2 separate regions of the Homo sapiens genome follow, and region 2 is linked to region 1. The links come from fine-mapping of genetic effects on gene expression. Tissue or cell type: whole blood. Region 1 holds a variant in brackets; the other region holds the start of a gene. All regions are shown on one strand. Distances are from middle to middle. Region 1 has its middle 37 kb from the start of SHB. Region 2 holds the start of SHB (SH2 domain containing adaptor protein B).

What was found. PIP is the estimated chance that this variant, and not a neighbour inherited with it, causes the effect.
Region 2: SHB starts here. The variant in region 1 is fine-mapped to the expression of SHB in whole blood (TOPMed, PIP 0.92).

Annotation. Positions count from the first base shown.
Region 1 is chr9:38,104,473-38,107,480 of GRCh38, reverse strand. No RefSeq gene overlaps it. Among named protein-coding and RNA genes, the nearest start is that of SHB, 37 kb to the right of the region's middle. The variant A/G (reference allele first, on the strand shown) is at 1,398.
Region 2 is chr9:38,068,132-38,070,631 of GRCh38, reverse strand. It overlaps SHB (SH2 domain containing adaptor protein B), which reads left to right and starts at 1,405. Exons shown (of 6, transcript NM_003028.3): 1 at 1,405-2,500. The coding sequence starts at 1,987. RefSeq lists silencers at 995-1,804, 2,225-2,274 and an enhancer at 2,165-2,500.

The DNA of each region.
Region 1 (3,008 bases):
AGTCATTATGCGTCTTTGGGCCCTTTTTTTTTTTTTTCTTCTCCTTTTGAGACAAAGTCTCACTCTGTCACCCAGGATAGAGTGCAGTGGCACAATCTTGGCTCACTGCAACCTCCACCTTCCGGGTTCAAGTGATTCTCCCGCTCAGCCTTCTGAGTAGCTGAGATTATAGGCATGCACCACCATGCCTGGCTAATTTTTGTATTTTTAGTAGAGATGGGGTTTCTCCATGTTGACCAGGCTGGTCTTGAACTCCTGACCTCAAGTGATCCACCTGCCTCGGCCTCCCAAAGTGCTGGGATTACAGGTGTGAGCCACTGCACCCGGCCAAAACTGTGAGGGAGGCAGGGAGCCCATCACCCTCCTGGTGGTGGCCGGTCCCCTGCCCCGTCTTTGGGCTTTAATTTCCTTCTTTGTAAAATCGCAAGGGGAAAGGAAGGAATCAAGATATCAAGTGTCCGATTTTCCCACTTTGTCCTGACTGACCTGCACATTCTGTGACAGTGTCCATACATACATTACATGAATGATCACTTGGTAAAAAAATCCAAAGAAAGTAAGTCTTTGTTATATGGGACACCCTAAAATATAGTGTTTACGAGCTCCTTCTCTCTCAGGAGCCAGCCTCCCTGGGTTCAAATCCAAGCTTGCCACTTATTAGCTATGTGACCTTGGGCAAGTTACTAAACCCCTCTGTGTTTCAGTTTCCTCATACTCAATACAAGAATAATATTTGTACCATTGCATAGGGCTGTTATGGATCAAAGAACTTAAGAGAACTATAAGGCACTTAGGATAGAGCCTGACATATGGTAAACACTCATTAAATGTGACTCATCGTTACCTAGCAAAAGCTGATACTCTCCATTCCACTTAAACGAAATTGAATGATAACTGAAGATTTCCCTTGGCTAAAATATTTAAAACTATAATTATTTCAGATATAAACTAAGAAGTATAATCATTTTGAAGGTAAATCTTTCTAAAACACACCATAAAATGTCTTTTGTTTTGTTTTTTGAGACAGAGTCTGGCTCTGTTGCCCAAGCTAGAGTGCAGTGGTGCAATCTCAGCTCACTGCAACCTCTGCCTCCCGGGTTCAAGCGATCCTCCTACCTCAGCCTCCCAAGTAGCTGGGACTACAGATGCATGGCTGGCTAATTTTTGTATTTGTTATTAGAGACGGGGTTTTGCCATGTTGGCCAGGCTCGTCTGGAGCTCCTGACCTCAGGTGATCCGCCCACCTCAGCCTCCCAAAGTGCTGGGATTACAGGCATGAGCCACCAGGCTCAGCCTAAACAGTATCTATAAATTATTATTCTTTTCCTCCTCCCCTGACTTAGGCTCAACAAGAATGGGAGCCCCCTGAAGGCAGAGGTCTCTATCTCTACCTTTCC[A/G]GTTGGCAGGAGTACCTGGCACAAAATGAGTACCAATACGCTTTTGCTTAGGAAATGAAGGGAGGACAGTCACAGGCATTAGGCTCTAGGATGCTTTATGGAGATGACACTCTTGGAGGTTGATAGGGGATATTGAGCTAAAGGACCCAGACAAGGGTCCTTTAGTGCCTGAGTTTTAAAGTTTTCTCACCTCTGTCTTTCCAACTACCATTATGACCACAGTTGTCCTCTTAAATCCTGCCTTTGAAATCCTGGGCCTGCTTAGAGCAAGGTCTCCCCTTGGGGACCGCCACAACCGACTGCCATGGTGCAGGCAAACAGAGGCCAGATCATCAGAACAGCTGCCCTTGGTGACTGCTTATTCCTTCACACACACTATGGCATCTACCGTTCACACACAAATGTGTGCGATTGAAATCATTATATTCCCATTTTACAGATTAAAACAAAACAAGGCTTAATGTGGTTAAGTGACTTCTATGCCACCAGTAAGTGGAAAAGCTGAATACTAAAATCACAGTTGGCCTGGCACAGGGGCTCATGCCTGTAATCCCAGCACTTTGGGAGGCTGAGGCAGGCAGATCGCTTGAGCTCAGAACTTCAAGACCAGACTGGGCAACATGGCGAAATGCTGTCTCCACAAAAAATACAAAAATTAGCAGGGCATGGTGGCGCACACCTGTAGTCTCAGTCACTTGGGAGACTGAATGGGAAGATCCCTTGAGCCCAGGAGGTCGAGGCTGCAGTGAGTCATGATCCCGCCACTGCACTCCTGGGTGACAGGGGAGACCCTGTCTCAAAATAAAATAAAATAAAATAAAATCACAGCTTGAATAGCTTGTTCAAAACCTGGCCACCAATTGAAGTGGCCAGGTGTGAGGACAAAAGGCTGGGCAGTGGTGGGGTGGATAGGAATCAGGAAAATGGAAGATGAGGAGTACAGGGCAGGCCATTTGAAGGTGACCTAGAACAATTTCACAGACGGCATAGGCACCAACAGCAGCTTTGTATGGGATAACCAATAGGGGGATGAGTCAAGATCACTTAAAGGGTGGAATGAGGAGCCTGCCTCCAGAAGCTTCCATCTCCTTTTGGATTCACCATGGCCTAGTAATCTGGCAGCCAAATGTGTTAGAACTATATGTAAACAAAGAGTAAAAAGGCTAGGCAGGGCTGGGTATGGTGGCTCACACCTGTAATCCCAGCACTTTGGGAGGCTGAGGCAGGTGGATTACCTGAGGTCAGGAGTTCAAGACCAGCCTGGCCAACATGGTGAAACTCTGTCCTTATTAAAAATACAAAAATTAGCTGGGCGTGGTGGCAGGCACCTGTAATCCCAGCTACTCCAGAGGCTGAGGCAGGAGAATTGCTTGAACTCAGGAGGCAGAGGTTGTGGTGAGCTGAGATCGCACCAGTGCATTCCAGCCTGGGCGACAAGAGTGAGACTCCATCAACAAATAAAAATAAAAATAAAGGCTAGACAGAATCTATTTTTTAAGTGCCCATACTCTGACACCACTTTGAAAGGCTCAAAGAACTTCCTAGTTTAGTTCTTGGTCTTCAGATTTGTTTTGTTAGGAAAGCTCTCATAAGTAGATGGTTGTTTTTATT
Region 2 (2,500 bases), 37 kb after region 1:
ATCTTTAGGCAGCATTTCCCTCTCAACAGGGAGCATGCCACCTCCCCTGGGTGCAGATCCCAGGAAAAGTTACACTGACCAAATCAGGCCACTCCCTGGGACTGTTTCCTCAATTTTGGTTAATAATCAAAGGATGATCTGAAATCGCAAAGAAGAGACTCTTGGAAAAGACATAATTATGGTGCCACCCGACTTAGGAACTGGCATCCAAGTCCACCTGTGTGACTTTCCTCTGGGCCTCAGTTTCTCCATCTGTAAAATGAGGTCCTGTATTTATTTTTTGAGACGGAATCTCCCTCTGTCGCCCAGGCTGGAGTGAAGTGGTGTGATCTCGGCTCACTGCAACCTCTGCCTCCCAGGTTCAAGCAATTCTCTGCCTCAGCCTTCCGAGTAGCTGCTGGGATTACAGGTACCCGCCACCACACCCGGCTAATTTTTGTATTTTTAGTAGAGACGGGGTTTCACCATCTTGGCCAGGCTGGTATTAAACTCCTGACCTCGTGATCCACCCGCCTCGGCCTCCCAAAGTGCTGGGATTACAGGCGTGAGACACCGCACCCGGCCGAGGTCCTGTATTAAATGGATCCTTGCCAGCTCCTACAACATAAGGCATTAAATGTTCCCACAACTTGCTCCCCGCCGGCTGGCAGCGAACAGGGCTAAAGCCTCGACTTCCTCAGAGGTGAAAAGGTAAGCAAACATTCCGACCTCCCCTAGCCTTGCTCTCGGATTGGTGCTGGGCCCGGCTCCCACCGCCTATCCCGACCACATCCGTCATCTGGACTGCTAATACACTCATTAGCATAAAGATTCCTCCGAAGACCTGGCGCACGGGGCTGAACCGGAGTCTGTCCCTTTAAGGAAGAGGGACAGCCACTCTGTCCCTAAGGGCACTAGGCACTGCATTTCCTCCACACGGGCCACGCTGTAAACTAGACAGGTTCCGTGTTAATCCACTCTCCCTCCTCAACCCCGACAGGGGGATCCCTGGAGTGAACAACGCGCGGGGTCCCGGGGGACTGCGGAAAGGTTTGGCCTCTGCGCGTAGCAGGCTCCGCCAGGCAACCTCTCGCCCGAGGCGGCGGCGAGCTGCAAGCTAGGTGGAGCCGGCTGCGCGGCGGGACCCCAGCGCCCTGGGGCAAGACCCTGGTGCTGGCGCCAGGGCAGCCGCGGGAGGTGGCGTGTGCAGGAGCGGAGAGGTGCGCCCACCCCGGCCCCGGGCGCGAGGGGGGCGGGGCTTGGGCCGCGGCCCGGGGCCAGGCTCGCGGGGATGGGCGGTGCTGGGTCTGCGGGAGCGGGCGGGGGGCGGGGCGCGCGAGCGGGCTCCGGGGGGGCGGGGCGGCGGCGCGGGGCGGGCTCTGGCGGCCTGAGTGTCACACACGCGGCGGCTCGGGAGGCGGCGGCAGTGGCAGCGACAGGCGCCGCCGGGACGGGCACGGGCGCGCGGGCTCCGGCGGGCGCCGGCTGCCTTCCTCCGTCGCTCGCTGTCTCTCCCGGCCGCATTCTCCTCCGCTGCGGGGCCGAGCTCTCCCCAGCGCTCGCAGGAAGGAAGAAGGGAGCCGAGGACGCCGAGAAGTTCCCGCGGCAGCCGCGGATCCCGGCCAAGGCGGAGGCTGCGGCTCCGACGGGGCAGGAGCGCGATCCACGGCGAGGGGCGTACGGCCAAAGGGTCCGCGGCGTGGAGCGCTCGGACCTTCCGCTCTCCCCCGGGCGTGGGCCGGGACCCCATGAGACGCGCCCACGAGGGGCGCGAGATTCCTAGCTTGGGCGGCGCTAGGCGGAGGGAGGTGTTGCAGCCGCCGGAGCCAGAGAGCTGCCGGCAGGAGGCGGCGGCGGCAAGAACTTGAACTTGGCGTCGGGAGCGGGCGCCCCGGACGCCCCCCGCCGGGGCCGGGGCGCCGAGGGACCTGCGCCGCAGCGCTGCCCCCCGAATGGCCGCGGCGGCGGACCGGGCTCCCGCGCCGCGGCCCTAGGCGGCCTCTCGCCATGGCCAAGTGGCTAAACAAGTACTTCAGCTTGGGCAACAGCAAGACCAAGAGCCCCCCGCAGCCGCCGCGGCCAGACTACCGCGAGCAGCGGCGCCGAGGCGAGCGGCCTTCGCAGCCCCCCCAGGCCGTGCCGCAGGCCTCCTCCGCCGCCTCGGCGTCCTGCGGTCCGGCCACCGCCTCCTGCTTCTCAGCCTCTTCGGGCTCGCTGCCCGACGACAGCGGCAGCACCAGCGACCTCATCCGCGCCTACCGCGCGCAGAAGGAGCGAGACTTCGAGGACCCCTACAACGGGCCTGGCTCGTCGCTGCGCAAACTGCGCGCCATGTGCCGCCTGGACTACTGCGGCGGCAGCGGGGAGCCAGGCGGGGTCCAGCGCGCCTTCTCGGCCTCGTCCGCGTCGGGCGCCGCGGGCTGTTGCTGCGCCTCCTCGGGCGCGGGGGCCGCCGCGTCCTCGTCCTCGTCCTCCGGCTCTCCGCATCTCTACCGCAGCAGCAGCGAGCGGCGGCCCGCCA